2 separate regions of the Homo sapiens genome follow, and region 2 is linked to region 1. A link means that fine-mapping ties the variant in region 1 to the expression of a gene that starts in the linked region. Tissue or cell type: whole blood. Region 1 holds a variant in brackets; the other region holds the start of a gene. All regions are shown on one strand. Distances are between the middles of the regions.

Region 1 (7,832 bases):
TGGCCCCAGCAATTCCATTTTCAAAAACCTGTTTTGCATATTGGGTCCATCCGAGAGTTGGTTGAGGGGGGACAAATTCAATACTGAAGACAGGCCGGTTGCGGTGGCTCACGCCTGTAATCCCAGCACTTTGGGAGGCTGAGGCAGGCGGATCACGAGGTCAGGAGAGCGAGACCATCCTGGCTAACACGGTGAAACCCCGTCTCTAATAAAAATACAAGCACTTAGCCGGGCATGGTGGCGTGCACCTGTAGTCCCAGCTACTTGGGAGGCTGAGGCAGGAGAGTGGCATGAACCCGGGAGGCGGAGCTTGCAGTGAGCCGAGATCGCGCCACTGCACTCCAGCCTGGGTGACAGAGCAAGCCTCCGTCTCAAAAATAAAAATTAAAAAATAAACCAAAGACAGCCACAGTAGAATAGATAGAAAAAAGGCTTAAGGCCTGCGTTAGCCTAGCAGAATTTAAAATTTGCCTGGGGGAAACAGGACATAAAATTGTGCCATAGAAGTCACCAACAGGGTCAGCCACAGTGTCCAGCACTTTGGGAGGCCAAGGCTGGAGGAGGGAGGGAGCCCAAGAGTTTGAGACCAGCCTCGGCAACAAAGTGAGACCCCATCTCTACAAAAAATTAAAAAATAAAATTAGCTGGGCATGATGGTGCGTACCTGCAGCCCCAGCTACTACTCAAGAGACTGAAATGGGAGGATAGCTTGAGCTCAGGAGGTCAAGGGTGACAGAGCAAGACCCCGTCTCTCCCTCTCTCTCTCTCTTTTTTTTTGTTTTGTTTTTTTTTTTTTTTTTGAGATGGAGTCTTGCTCTTGTCACCCAGGCTGGAATGCAATGGCATGATCTCAGCTCACTGCAACCTCCGCCTCCCGGATTCAAGCGATTCTCCTGCCTCAGCCTCCCGAGTAGCTGGGATTACAGGCGCCTGCCACCATGCCCGGCTAATTTTTGTATTTTCAGTAGAGACAAGGTTTCGTCATGTTGGCCAGGCTGGTCTCAAACTCCTGACCTCATGATCCGCCTGCCTCGGCCTCCCAAAGTGCTGGGATTGCAGGTGTGAGTCACCATGCCCGGCCTAAGGCCCCGTCTCTTAAAAAAAAAAAAAAAAAGTCACCAACAGTTAGCGAGTGCTTACTCTGTGCTAGGCCTTGTAATAAAATACCATCTTAGCCTCACAACAGCCCTGCAACAAGGTAAGTGCCATCATCCCATTTTACAGATGAAGAAGTAAGCAGAGAAGTAGTGATTTGCTCCGGGTCACAGAGGTAGGAAGAGTGGAACTATGGTTCAAACCCAGCAGCTGGGCTCCAGAGCCCCCACTCAGAGCCACCCTGTGCGATGGCCTCACTGGAGCACAGGAGTGGAAATGAGAGGTGCTGTGATGCGAAAGGAGAATGGCCGCGGAGGTGAAAAACAAGCTCTCCTGACAGCAGCAGGCCTGTGAGATGGCTATTGTCCCCACTTCATAAAGGAAGAGAGTGAGGCTTACAGGGATTGTCATTGATCCCAGGCCACAGGGAACCATGCGGCAGAGCCAGATTTTAACCCAGATCTGCTGGCCTCTAGGACCCTGCCTCTTAATGTCCCTCTTAACAGAGGGATGTTGCCTAGAGACTGGCTGCAGCGCAGGGGCACTGAACTCTGGAGGAGGCTGAGCTAGTCCTGGAGCTGGGGAAAAGTATTCCCACAGGGAGCACAGAAGGCCCAGGGGTGTTGAAGGACAGGAAATAGCCCACAGCTAAGGCTCTACGGGTATAGGTGACGAAGGGGAGAAAGCCAGAGTAAGGGCAGCAATCCTGAGGGTCAGGCTGAGGGCCAGGCTGTCCTGGGAAGTGGTGAGACTTCCATCTCAGGACGTGTCTAAAGGGGACTGGACTGGTTTAGAAATGTATGAATGGGCCCGAGGGATGGCCTGGCTGTCTGCTGGCACCTTCCAAACCAGAGGATGACAAAGAAAAGTACGTTTGAAAGTTGTGCAACATAGGGCCAGAGTGGCCTTGTGTGGCCGCAAGGAGGCAGGAGAAGAGGAGGCTTCCAGAAGAGGCTGAGCGGGGACTGAGACCTGGGCAGGGGGAGGACAGCAGAGACACACAGATGGGAGGGCACCTGGAGTGAAGTGTGGACAGCATCTGGAGGTGGCAGGAAGCAGCAGGAGGCCAGGGGCCAGGATGATGGGGGCTGGTTACAGAGGTGGAAACTTGGAAATAGGTTTCAAGTGGGGAAGAGGCCAGAGGAATGCAGGTTGAGACACAGCAGGAGAGATGGCTGGAAGTATCAGCGTCAGGGAGTCACAGCTATAGGAAGGACAGGAGAGCAGAGAAAGGAAGGGAAATTTAGAAACCCGAAGACCAGATAATGAAGTTTCATGCCTTCCAGGAGGAAGAGCTGCTAAGGAGGTGAGAGGAGGGCAGAGAAACATCCTTGGGGGCGCCAGGACCAGGATGGCAGGAAGGGGTGTGGATGTTCTTGGCCACTCTCCTTCCATTTTGAGGGCCTTAATGAAGGAGGCAGCATCACAGTAATGGTCCCACAGCAGCTGCTCCATGGGTATTGCATGTGTGGGTGCATAAATGCATTAATCAAGAGTACTGGGGTCTGGGCAAGGTGGCTCACGCCTGTAGTCCTAGCACTTTGGGAGGCTGAGGCAGGCAGATCACATGAGACCAGGAGTTCGAGCCCAGCCTGTCCAACATGGTGAAACCCCATCTCTACTCAAAATACAAAAATTAGCCAGGCGTGGTGGCGGGCGCCTGTAGTGCCAGCTACTCGGGAGGCTGAGGCATGAGAATCACTTGAACCCAGGAGGCGGAGGCTGCAGTGAGCCAAGCCAGCCTGGGCGACAGAGCAAGACTCCATCTAAAAAAAAGAAAAAAAAAAGTCTGCAAGGATCTCACTGAATTTTAGTGAAAACCCTCTAAGGAGAGATTACCCCCATTTAACAGATGAGAAAAATAAGATTAATTTGCAAAAAATAAGTAGGGAAGCCTCCACTGTGGTTCTGAGGTGGAGGAGGGTCCTCTGTCTCTCAGTGGTGGTGGGAGTCGGTTCTGATTACAGGAAGGAAGAGTGGGTGTTTAGTTTTCTTTTCTTTTCTTTTCTTTTTTTTTTTGTGACGGAGTCTCGCTCTGTCGCCCAGGCTGGAGTGCAGTGGTGCGATCTCGGCTCACTGCAAGCTCCACCTCCCAGGTTCATGCCATTCTCCTGCCTCAGCTACTCGGGAAATAGCTGGGACTACAGGCAGCCGCCACCACGCCCAGCTAATTTTTTTTGTATTTTTAGTAGAGATGGGTTTTCACCGTGTTAGCCAGGATGGTCTTGATCTCCTGACCTCGTGATCCACCCGTCTCGGCCTCCCAAAGTGCTGGGATTACAGGTGTAAGCTACCACGCCCAGCCTTGTTTGCTTTTCTGAGACGGAGTCTCGCTGTGTTGCCCAGGCTGGAGTGCAGTGGTGCGATCTCGGCTCACTGCAACCTCCGCCTCCTGGGTTCAAGCGATTCTCCTGCCTCGGCCTCCCGAGTAACTGGGACTGCAAGCACCTGCCACCATGCCCGGTTAATTTTTGTATTTTGAGTAGAGACGGGGTTTCACTATATTAGCCAGACTGGTCTCAAACTCCTGTCCTAGAGTGATCCGCCCACCTCGACCTCTTAAAGTACTGGGATTACAGGCATGAGTCACTGTGCCCAGACTGGTTTTGTTTAGAATCCACCCCTTGTCCTGCCTCTCCCAGGGGTCTATGAGGAGCCCACTAATCTTTAATCCATGGCCCTAGGTTCAGGGGAGGGGGTTGGGCCAGGGCAGGCCATGGGAAGTGAAGTGGACTTGGGGGGAGTCAGAAAGCTTTGGTGTGGCCTCTTGTGCCCAAGACAACCCAGGAGGTTCATGGTCCTGAAGCCAATGTAATCTAGGGCCCAAACCTTCTAATCTCAGGGTGGGCAGAATCTAGGTGTAGAATGGGGTGAGTTCAGGGGGGCTCCACATAGACAGAGGGTGTGGGACCCTCACCTTGGCACTAGAAGAGTTCAGGCCTCCTCAAACAGATGGGGCTCAGGACAGCAGAGGGGACAGAGAGGGCTGCTCTGCCAGCATGTCCCAGAAGTGCATGTGGATATAGAGGGCAGCAGCTGCTGAGATGGCCGTGGGCATTAGGCTATGCTGGAGTGGGGACACCTCACCCCGACTATGCCAGCTCGCACCGGGCACTTTCACTTCCCTTAGTATAGGCTCCTTGCACTCTGCTACCCACAGTTTGCATCAGAAGAAATGGAAGAGACCTGCTTAAGGTCACATCACACACCCACTGGCAGAGCAGGGACTCTGCACAGGGTGGTCTAACTGCAAAGTCTGCCATCCTGCCATTCCCCTTGGGGCTGGAAAAGAAAGGTTTCTAACTTGCTTTCAAAGCGAGTTCCTATCAGCCCCGTTGTGGGCAAGGTGGGGCTGCTACCCGTTCTAGAGGGCCTGCTCAGTGGAGCTGGGGCCAAGCTGGGCCTCTCCAGTCGGCTGCGGGGGCGCACCCCCGGGCGCTGGGAGTCCAGGCCCGGTTTTGCATCAGGCCCTGCCGAGGTGTTTCCTCCTCCTCCGTGTGGGGCAGCTGCTGGCTGGGCTGCCTGTTGAGTCAGCCTTCTTCCCTCACGGCTCTTCTCCCGGTCCCTGAAACTCGGCTGCCAGGGGAGCTGGAGCCACCTGCGAAGGTGTCCTCCCATACTGGACCCCTACAGGTAACACGTGTCGGTGCCAGGGTCCCCTGCCAGGGTCCAGAGACGCAGGCACTGCCACCTGGTATCCTGAGCACCCTCCAGCACCTTGGGGTTGGGGGAGGTGGGC[A/G]CATGTCTGGAACTGGAACAGCTGGACAGATGGACAGACCCTCCTCTTGACCAATGGGTCTGTCCCACCGTGTCAAAACAGCAGAGAAGACCAAACTCCTACCTAACTCTGGTAGGAGATTCTGCCTCTGGTTGGTAGGAGAGGGGACTTCAGGGAGGGGGCACTGCTGAGGACGCTGGGCTGATGCCCATGGCCCAGCTCAGGCAGGCCTGAAGGACAGAAATAGGCTCAGTTCTGCCGAACGTCCCCCCGGCCTCCATCCACACTCAGACACACACACCTGGTGGCCCCCAAGGCACCAGGGGACACCCCACAGCACACAGCCCAGTCACACATACAGCACAGGAGGAAATGCACAATGCATACTGTACACACCCCACACGGCGCTGTCACCTAGAAAGTCACTGAACACACCACACAGACAATATAGTCACCATGCAGCATCACACTGCAACAGGACACAAAGACACACAGCAACTACACAGCTCACAGACTCACGCAACGCAGACATGCCCACCAGACTCGGACCCACACAGCCACACAACAGGGCACAGAGAGGGACGTGGGCTCACACCCCAATCCACAGGGGAGGCCGAACGTGGGCTCACACCCCAATCCACAGGGGAGGCCGAACGTGGGCTCACACGTTGGCCACAGAAGTCCAGGGAAACTGCTGTTGTGGAGCACACAGGTATCCACAGAGTGAATGCACACCGTGCAGCCGTGCTGAGGCCTTCTGCTCCTGAGGGTGTCAAGAGGGATCGCTGGGGCTCGGCCACTGACTCAGCTGGGAGGGGACAGAGCATAGCAGGCGGCGGACACAAGCCAGGACCTGCCCGCCAAGCTGCCTCCGCCGGTCTCAGCCCCACCTGGAGCCGTGGCAATGGAAGGGGCGGGGAAGAGAGGAGAGGCCGCCCAGTGGGCTCAGGACACAGCCCTGACCAAGTCATGGGCCCCTTGCCACGTCTACATGCCCCTCAGCGCTGGGCAAATGCTTTCTTTCCGGAGTCACTGTGGTACCTGAGCATGGGCTGCTGCGCTAGCCTAGGCCTCCACCGCCGGGACCCCAGCCTGGTCTGGGGAGAACTGTGTGGCCAGAACAGAGGGGCCCTGTGGCTCCAGGCAACAGGGCAGGGCTGGCGGCGGGGGCATCCCTGGGTTGGAGGCCTCCGTGGGAGTGGGTGCGGCAGTTACCTCAGGAGAGGAAGTTGGGGGTGTGGGCTGAGGAGGAGGTTGCCTCAGACAGGAAGGCCAAGTGGGCCAGGGCAGGGTGGAGGTGGTGGCAGGAGGGGACCCAGGCTGTGAGGTTCCTGGTGCGGGGGAGTGAGCAGATGTGTGTGTGTGTACGTGTGTGTGTGTGTGTATCTGTCTGTCTAGGTGGGTGGTTGTATGTGTGCATTCCCATGTGTGTGCAGGCATATTTCTGCATTTAATTAATCAAACTTTTACCAACCATCTGTTGTGTGCAAAGTAATGGCTTTGAGGGTGACTCCCTCTCCCTGCCTCCAAGGAGCTCACAACCCAGTTAGCCGGGCAATGTATGTGTGCCAAAGTCTGTATGATTTTTATGTACATCTTTATCGAGGGACATATTTGTCCCCAGACTTGTTCTTGTCTAGGTGAACCCATCCGGGTGGGCCTATCCCCATTGGTGTGCATATGCTGTGTGCAGGTTTTTTTGTTAGTTTTTGTTTTGAGACGGAGTCTCACTCTTGCCCAGGCTGGAGTGCAGTGGCGCCATCTCAGCTCACTGCAACCTCCTTCTCTTGGGTTCAAGTGATTCTCCTGCCTCGCTTCCCAAGTAGCTGGAATTACAGGCATGTACCACCATGCCCAGCTAATTGTTCTGTTCTTTTCATTTTTTTTGGAGGAGTTTCACTCTTTTTGCCCAGGCTGGAGTGCAATGGTGTGATCTCGGTTTACCATAACCTCTGCCTCCCAGTTTCAAGCAATTCTCCCACCTCAGCCTCCCGAGTAGCTGGGATTAAAGGCATGCACCACCATGCCCGGCTAATTTTGTATTTTTAGTAGAGACGGGGTTTCTCCGTGTTGGTCAGGCTGGTCTCAAACTCCTGACCTCAGGTGATCTGCCCGCCTTGGCATCCCAAAGTGCTGGGATTACAGGGGTGAGCCACTGTATCTGGCCATAATTTTTGTATTTTTAGTAGAGAAGGGGGTTTCACCATGTTGGCCAGGCTGGTCTTGAACTCCTGACCTCAGGTGATCGGCCCACCTTGGCCTCCCAAAGTGTTGGGATTACAGGCGTGAGCCACCGCGCCTGGCCACTGTGTGCAGATTTAAGAACATGTGTAGGGCCGGGCGTGGTGGCTCACGCCTGTACTCCCAGCACTTTGGGAGGCTGAGGCTGGCAGATCATGAGGTCAGGAGTTCGAGGCCAGCCTGGCCAACATGGTCAAACCCCGTCTCTACTAAAAATACAAAAATTAGCTGGGCGTGATGGTGCGTGCCTATAATCCCAGCTACTCAGGAGGCTGAGGCAGGAGGTTTGAACCCGTCAGGCAGTGGTTGCAGTGAGATGAGATCGTGCCACTGTACTCCAGCCTGGGCAACAAAGCAAGACTCCTCAAAAAAAAAAAAAAAAAAAAAAAAAAGAATGTGTGTGCATGTCTCTCGTGGGCATGGGTCCGGGTCTGTGTCTGCAGAGGGCCCTTTCTGGGGGAACAGCTGTGCATGCGCCTGTCTTTATGCAGGTGTCTGTGTGCATGTGCGACCATATCTATGCCTACATGGACCCGCGTGTGCACATGTGTCTGTGTGTTCCATCGCTGCAGTCCTGTGTGGCCCTACCTCAGGGTGTGTGCATGTGTGTCTCTTGCTTCTTCCACTGTGTCTCCAAGTGTGTTCAAGGGCTAGTGTATGCATGTGTGCATGAGTGTCTCTCACCCCACCTTGAGCTCAGCCATCCTGGGGTGGCACCCTACCCATACCCGGCCAAGTGTTTGGGGAGAAAAGGGCTGTTGGTTCTAGGATGTGCCAA
Region 2 (7,832 bases), 110 kb before region 1:
GATCTGCCTGCTTCGGCCTCCCAGAGTGCTGGGATTACAGGCGTGAGCCACCGCGCCTGGCCAATGTTTATATTTTTTGTAGAGACAGGATTTTGCCGTATTGCCCACGCTGGTCTGGAACCAAAACGTTGGGATTACAGGCGTGAGCCTCCATGCCTGGCCGAGTCTCTGTTTCTTCTATGTAAAATGGGAGTAAGAATCATACCTAACTCACAACGTGGTTGGGAGAAGCAAATGAGTTAGTGTGTGTTAATGTATATGGGTGTGTGTGCGTGCGTGTACACATATGTATGTATAGATTTATGTATAGGTCTCTGCCTATATGGAGAGAGAGGAAGTGAGAAAGAGAGAAACTCAAGCAAGTGTAAGAGTACGAGTGGTATCTATTAGAAAATAATAAATAGTAACTGCAGTTGTTAATAGTCTTCTTCCTGGTGGGGCGAGGTGGCTCATGCCTCTAATCCCAGCACTTTGAGAGGCCAAGGCAGGTGGATCACCTGCGATCAGGAGTTTGAGACCAGCCTGACCAATTATGGTGAAACCCTATCTCTACTAAAAATACAAAAATTAGCCGGGCGTCGTGGCATGTGCCTGTAGTCCCAGCTACTCGGGAGGCTGAGACAGGAGAATCGCTTGAACCCAGGAGGCAGAGGTTGCAGTGAGCCGAGATTGCACCACTATACTCCAGCCTGGGCGACAGAGCAAGACTCCGTCTCAAAAGAAATAGTCTTCTTCCTGTCATCAGTCTCTACCAACGAAAGTTCATTCTGACAACAAATATTTACTGAGTTTCTGCTATGTGCCATAGACTGTGCTAGGAGTCACAGAAACATCACCCACTCTTCTCTATCAGTATATCTAAGATCCTCTGTGACCTTGCCAGCATTAAACAAGACTTTAAAATGGGGGTTCTCTGGCCGGGCGCGGTGGCTCATGTCTGTAGTGACAGCACTTTGGGAGGCAGAGGCGGGTGGATCACGAGGTCAGGAGATCGAGACTATCCTGGCTAGTACGGTGAAACCCCGTCTGTACTAAATGAAATGACAAACTGGTGGCGGGCGCCTGTAGTCCCAGCTACTCGGGAGGCTTAGGCAGGAGAATGGTGTGAACCCGGGAGGCAGAGCTTGCAGTGAGCAGAGATTGCCCCACTGCACTCCAGCCTGGGCGACAGAGCAAGACTCTGTCTCAAAAAAAGAAGAAAAAAGTGGGGGGGGGGGTGGTCTCTGCCAAAAACACAGGATGCTAAAATGATTTAAAAATGAGGGTTCTGGATTTGAATAGTGTAGGCTTTAATCCCAACTGTACCACTTCCTAGCTATGTGATTGTGGGAGTCTGTCTTTCTTTCTTTTCTTTTTTCTTTTTTTGAGATGGAGTCTCTCTCTGTTGCTCAGGCTGGAGTGCAGTGGCACGACCTCGGCTCACTGCAACCTTCGCCTCTAGGATTCAAGTGATTCTCCTGCCTCAGCCTCCTGAGTAGCTGGGATTACAGGCACGCGCCACCACGCCCGGCTAATTTTTGTATTTTTAGTAGAGACGGGGTTTCACCATGCTGGCCAGGCTGGTCTTGAACTCCCGACCTCAGGCGATCCACCCGCCCTTGGCCTCCCAAAGTGCTGGTATTACAGGCGTGAGCCACCGCGCCCGGCCGGGAGTGTTTCTTTTTCTTTTACTTTTTTTTTTTTTTTTTTTTTTGAGACGGAGTCTCGCTCTGTCGCCCAGGCTGGAGTGCAGTGACGCGATCTCGGCTCACTGCAAGCTGCGCCTCCCGGGTTCACGCCATTCTCCTGCCTCAGCCTCCCGAGTAGCTGGTTCTACAGGCGCCCACCATCACGCCCGGCTAATTTTTTTGTATTTTTAGTAGAGATGGGGTTTCACCGTGTTAGCCAGGTGGTCTCTATCTCCTGATCTCGTGATCCGCCCGCCTCTGCCTCCCAAAGTGCTGGGATTACAGGCGTGAGCCACCGCGCCCAGCCCGGGAGTATTTCTTAATTCACTAGTAGCACTTATCTCCCATGGTAAGTATTCAATAAATGTTAGATATTATTCAGTTTAATTAACCCAATGACCCTAACCAAGGTTGCAGCCTGAACCTGGGGAGCTGCAGATAGATGATCTCAAAGCTTTCTTCTAGTCCCAAAGTCTATGATTTTTTATATTCAGTAGAACAGCTGTGGTGGAGAGTTCAGGGGGAATGACCCACAATATTTTTAGGAGAAAGGCATAAAAGGCTTTGTGAGCGGTTTCACAAGGATAGGTTCTTACTCCTCTAAATGGGGAGAAATCTCCCTTGCGGAGAAATCACCAGCAATTAGAATACTACCTTTGTCTCTGGGAGTATTCAGGTATTCACAGACAAATTCGTACTCATGATGTGAGCAGAATTGGAAAAAAAAAAAAAAAAAAAAAAAAAAAACAAGCGACACATGGAGTGATAAACACTATAAATGCCAAATACATATATTCAGTCCTTACTGAGAGCGGGTGCTGTCTGGTTTTCACAGGAAAGACAGGCAGTGTTAAAAGGCTCAGACTCTGGTGTCAGGCAGATCTGGGTCTAATTCCCAATTTGCCAACTTATCAGGACCCCGGGGGCAAGTTGCTTTTAGCCTTTCTGCTTCAGCTTTCCTTTTCTGCAAAACACAGACAGCAATAGTACCTAGCTAAGAGACTGTACCCAATCCAGTGCGAATAAAAGTGAATTATTGTTAGTATCTGACAAATGGCACCCTATGGGTGACAAGTTTCCTTTGTCAGAAGGTGACACGTCTTCCCTTTCTGACTTGAGGTTTCACGGGTGGGGCCTGGTCTCTGCCTTAAGAAGATAGGCTTAGTGCCACCCTTGTCACCTTGGGAACTTCCTTAATAAAGAGGAGGGTCTCTCCTCCATCAGACCCGGGACTCCACAAGGCTGGAACTGCGTCTCTTCCTCAGAGGTGGGAGCAGCAGTGACTCCGCTAGGGTCAGATGGACCTAGTCGCTCCCATCACCCCGAGGGCACCCAGAGTGTGTGTGGCTGACTCCTCTCCAGGCTACTCAGCGTAGGCCCGATTCTCTTTCATTCTCTTCCTTAAGGCCCAGGAGACGTCAGTGAGGACTGTGCCACTTCAGCAGCCCCCCAGAGCAGGAAGGAGTGGGCTGAGGAGCCCCCCGGGGCCCTAGCCTGAGAGGTCCCAGAATTCGGGGGCTGAGAGGAAGTCTTAGGAGCTCTTAAGGGGCTGTGAGGGGACCTGGGGTTCAGTGGGCGAGCGTGTGGGCGGGTGTCCCAGAAGCGGTGTGAGGAGCGTTTTACCCGGTGGTGGGGTGGGAGGTGCGTCCGGGTAACTAATGGCAACCGGGCGGGGTGAGCCCGCTCTGCAGGAACTCCTCGACGGCGAAAAACTACGACTCCCAGGGTGCCCCAGGGCTTAGCCCAGCTTTCCCGCCCGCCCACTGGCTGCCGGTCCCGCAAGCGGCGAAGCCCATTGGCCACGGCGGTGCGGGGCTCCCCCACTAGCAGGTTAGTGGGCGCCGCCGGCAGCAGACGTTGACCGGGCGCGGGGGGGTAAGTGGGGGGGCCCGGCTAGCCATTCTGGAAGCGGCCGGGCGCAGTCTTCGTAGCGTACCCGCCGGCTGCGAGGCGCAGGGCGGAGGCGGAGACTGCGTGGCGCAGGCGCGTTGCTGGGCTTCTCCTGGGTCCCCAGACAGCTGGAGGAGATAAACAGAGGAGGAGGAGGGAGGGGAGTGCGTGTGTGAGAGCGCGCGAGGGAGTGTGAGTGTGTGTGAGCGCGGGTGTGAGGCGGTGCGCAGGGGCGGGCGGAGGCGCTGTCCGGCCCCGGCCAGGCGCCGGGCGGGGAGCATGGGAAGGGGCTAGAACTGCTCGAGCCCCCCAGCCCCCTCCCCGGGATCCGCGCCCCCCTTCCCGGGAGAGGGGCCGCCCCCCCCGGACGGACATGGGCTCCTGAAGTTGCGCCGCTGCCGGTCGGGGGAAGAGACCTGACAGGTACGGGTCACCGCCGCCCCCTGCCCTCCGCGGGCGCCGAGGCGGGGACCGGCTCCCGCAGCCCCGGTGAACGGGCCGCCCGCTCTGGGCCGGCTCCAGCCCTGCCGGCCTGGGGGCCTGAGCCTACCCGCCTCGGGGCCCCGGGTGTCCCGAGAGGGGCCAGGCCTCGCCGGGGCGGAGGGCAGAGTGGTCCGGGGGCGGGGTGGGGGCGGAGGGTTTGGTCGGGACGCGGGGGGAGGCTGTGGGAGTCCGGGGAGGCTCTGCGGAGGGAGAGGTGGAAGTCATTCCATCATGGGACTTTTTTGCGGAGTTTTTGTTTGACATCTGATCTGGCGCCGGAGTCAGGAAGAAGGGGCAGGTGTAAGTGCTGGGAGGGCAACGCCGACCTGACCTGCCCTCTTAGCTTCTCGCTCTCTCTCTTTCTGTTTTTCTCTCTCTCTTTCTGTGTGTGTGTGTGTGTGTGTGTGTGTGTGTGTGTGTGTGTGTCCACAGCAGATGCCTTCAGTGGCCCATCCTGGCACCAAACAACTCTGCCAAGGTGTTTCCACCAGGCGACTGTAGCACCCCGTATACAAAGGGCCTCTGCTTGGGAACGGGCTATTCAGTACCCACTTCAAAGGGTAAATAGGAAGTGAGGAGATAGAAGAGAGACTGCGAACCAGCAGGATCCACTTCTTGGACTGAAAGCCGCAGTGGGACGCCCCTTTGCCAGATTGGTTGACTTTGCTTGGTGGCTTGGGCTCTCTCTCCTCTGCGGGTGTACTCCCAGGGTTTCTAGAGGAGAGGTACAGGGGCCTGTAACTAATGTCTTAATAGCCGAATTTGACTGTTTTCCCCAGAGTTCTTTTCTTCTGTGACTTTCTTTAACCTCCTGAAGTACTGGTAGAGCAACGTTATAGTTTTTCTCTCAAGTTGGTGATTTTAGGAGCCTGGTAGGGTGGCTGAAGCTTCCCCATTCATTCCAAGGATGGGGTAGATGATCTGGGTAAAGTGGCAGTGAAGTCTTCCCTTTCTAACAAAGCCTGAAACCGTTTTGAGAAGAAACTATTTTGAGGGCAGCTTCTGACTCAAAGACGTTACGAAATCCCCACCTAGGACACCGGTATGCCCAGTGGTCCCTACTAAGCTTTTCTGTGTCTTTTAGAGTCGTTGAGTGGCCAGCTTCTGCTCACTGTACTGAAGGAACTACTTAATGCTATTTCTGTCTTGAGTTCTGGCTTATTCTTCCTTGTGATTCTTATATCTTTAGCGGGATTGAATTGAATTTTTGCTGTTGAGTGTAATAGCCAGATCCTCTGTAACAGACCAGGGAGTAACTAGTTGGGCTCCTTTGGGCCAAGTCTGAGACTTACTGAGGTTTCTTCATTGTAGGTTGTTGTATTTCGTTGGCAGGTGGGAAATGACCTTTTCCGTCATAGTTTGTGATCATGCTGCTTTAAGGCTGGAGTCCTGCTCTCCTTTCCTTTTTTGACCTATATGGGAGCACTTCTGTTCGAGTCTTATCTCAATTTGAAGGAACAGTGCTTTTGGATCAACTCTGCCGAATAATTGAGCAGTAGCCCATATTTCTGCCTGGGACACCTTCATTGAGGGTCACGAGGGAAAGAGAGAACACGTGTAAATATTATGATGATGATGTTAACAACTATTTACCAGTTTCATACAATTGACAGTTTTTTTTAGCCGGGAGGAGTTCAGTATTGACTCATTGGGCATCTTATGTAGGGTGTTTTTGCACACCTAGACTTTAGGATCTGGAAAGACAACTGAAAATCTTGAAGCCCACTGCCAAACATTTGTGGATCTTGGGCCAACTGCTAAGGAAGATCTAGACTATGACTTGGTCTTTAATTATTTTTATTTTTTTCTCCTTTATGTATGTATGTATTTATTTATTTATTTTTTGAGATGGAGTCTTGCTCTGTTGCCCAGGCTGAAGTGCAGTGGCGCGATCTCAGCTCACTGCAACCTCAGCCTCCTGGGTTCAAGCAATTCTCTGCTTCAGCCTCCCAAGTAGCTGGGATTGCAGGTGCCTGCCACCATGCCCAGCTAATTTTTGTATTTTTAGTAGAGATGGGGTTTCACCATCTTGGCCAGGCTGGTCTTGAACTCCTGACCTCGTGATCCACCGACCTCGGCCTCCCAGAGTGCTGGGATTACAGGTGTGAGCCACCGCACCTGGCCTCTCCTTTTATTTTTATTTTTTTGAGATGGGGTCTCACTCTGTTGCCTGGGCTGGTCTCAAACTCCTGAGCTCAAGGGATTCTCGTACCTCTGCCTTCCTAGTAGCTGGGACTACAGACACGGCCTCCGTGACCACTCTCTTCTCTCTTTTTAAAAATTAAGGAATGTTGCTGACATGTGCAGTTCTGAGTCTCAGAGAGGAAGTCAAACAGAACATGTAATCTGGTGATACTTGTGTTTTCTTTGGGTCACTGGTTTAGTTATCTATTCTGTTTCCTTTCTTCTTTCCACCTCACCTTTCCAGATGCTCCACTGTATCTTTAGGCTGCCATTGCAGATTGCTGGGCCCACAAAACCCTTAGGTTGTACTTTCTTAGCTGTCATCTCTTGAAAAGCCAAAGTTCTGGCAGTTGCTATTAGAAACCAGTTCCTGGCTGAGCGCGGTGGCTCACGCCTGTAATCCCAGCACTTTGGGAGGCTGAGGTGGGCAGATCACGAGGTCAGGAGATTGAGACCATCCTGGCTAACACGGTGAAACCCCATCTCTACTAAAAATACAAAAAAAATTAGCCGGGCATGGTGGCACGCGCCTGTAGTCCCAGCTACTCAGGAGGGATTTTCCTACTAAGGCAGGAAAATCGCTTGAACCCAGGAGGTGGAGGTTGCGGTGAGCTGTGATCGTGCCATTGCACTCCAGCCTGGGCAACAAAAGTGAAACTCCATCTCAAAAAAAAAAAAAAGAAAAGAAAAGAAAAAAAAGAAAGAAGCCAGTTCCTTGGTGTAGTTAATTTACTTTGAGAGGTATTTGCCAGTTGGGATATGTCCTAAAAAGTGACTGACATTTTATTCAGGGCCTGGTATATCTTGAGCTCAGTGCTAGCTAGTATTTTTACTTTATCCAGTGTAACCTTCATGACTGTCCTGTGAGGTGAGAATCATTTTCCCTATTATACCTATGAAGAAACAGATTCAGAGAAATTAAGTTATTTGCTTAAGGTCACACAGCAAGTAAGAGGAAGGACTGGAATTCAAACCCAGGTCTCTCTGCTCTGTGATATTGAATTGCCTCTGGGACTGTGACACATGAAGAAGAACTGAAAAGACCAAGGCTAAGAGCCTGGGGGAACATGATACCTCATTCAAATACTTGAAGATTGTCATGGGGAAAGGAAACTGGATGTTCTCTGTGATTCTAGAAGGCATCTCAGGATTAAATGACATAATTTCCAAGAAGGTAGACTTTGGTTTGATAGGAGATAATGTAGCTTTCTAAAAACAAAATGGGCTGCCTTGTGAGGGAGTGAGTTACCCATCATTGCAGATATTCAAGCAGAGAGTTTGCCACATCTTTTTTTTTTCTTTGAGACAGAGTCTTACTTCGTCATCCAGGCTGGAGTGCAGTGGCATGATCTCAGCTCACTGCAACCTCTGCCTCCCAGGTTCAAGTGATTCCCATGCCTCACTTCATCTTCCAGGCTGGAGTGCAGTGGCATGATCTCGGCTCACTGCAACCTCTGCCTCCCAGGTTCAAGTGATTCTCATGCCTCAGCCTCCCAAGTAGCTGGAATTATAGGCATGTACCACCACGCCCATCTAATTTTTGTATTTTTGTAGAGATGGGGTTTCACCATGTTGACCAGACTGGTCTTGAACTCCTGACCTCAGGTG

Evidence for each region. PIP is the estimated chance that this variant, and not a neighbour inherited with it, causes the effect.
Region 2: WDTC1 starts here. The variant in region 1 is fine-mapped to the expression of WDTC1 in whole blood (TOPMed, PIP above 0.99).

Annotation. Positions count from the first base shown.
Region 1 is chr1:27,337,423-27,345,254 of GRCh38, forward strand. It overlaps SYTL1 (synaptotagmin like 1), which reads left to right and starts at 4,600. Exons shown (of 15, transcript NM_001193308.2): 1 at 4,600-4,728. RefSeq lists enhancers at 4,221-4,480, 5,011-5,060, 5,235-5,852, 5,851-5,940. The variant A/G (reference allele first, on the strand shown) is at 4,835.
Region 2 is chr1:27,230,972-27,238,803 of GRCh38, forward strand. WDTC1 (WD and tetratricopeptide repeats 1) reads left to right here and starts at 3,661. Exons shown (of 16, transcript NM_001276252.2): 1 at 3,661-3,980. It overlaps WDTC1-DT (WDTC1 divergent transcript), which reads right to left and starts at 3,458. Exons shown (of 3, transcript XR_947117.2): 1 at 3,291-3,458; 2 at 2,474-2,631. RefSeq lists silencers at 3,481-3,540, 3,741-3,890, 4,081-4,130, 4,291-4,340.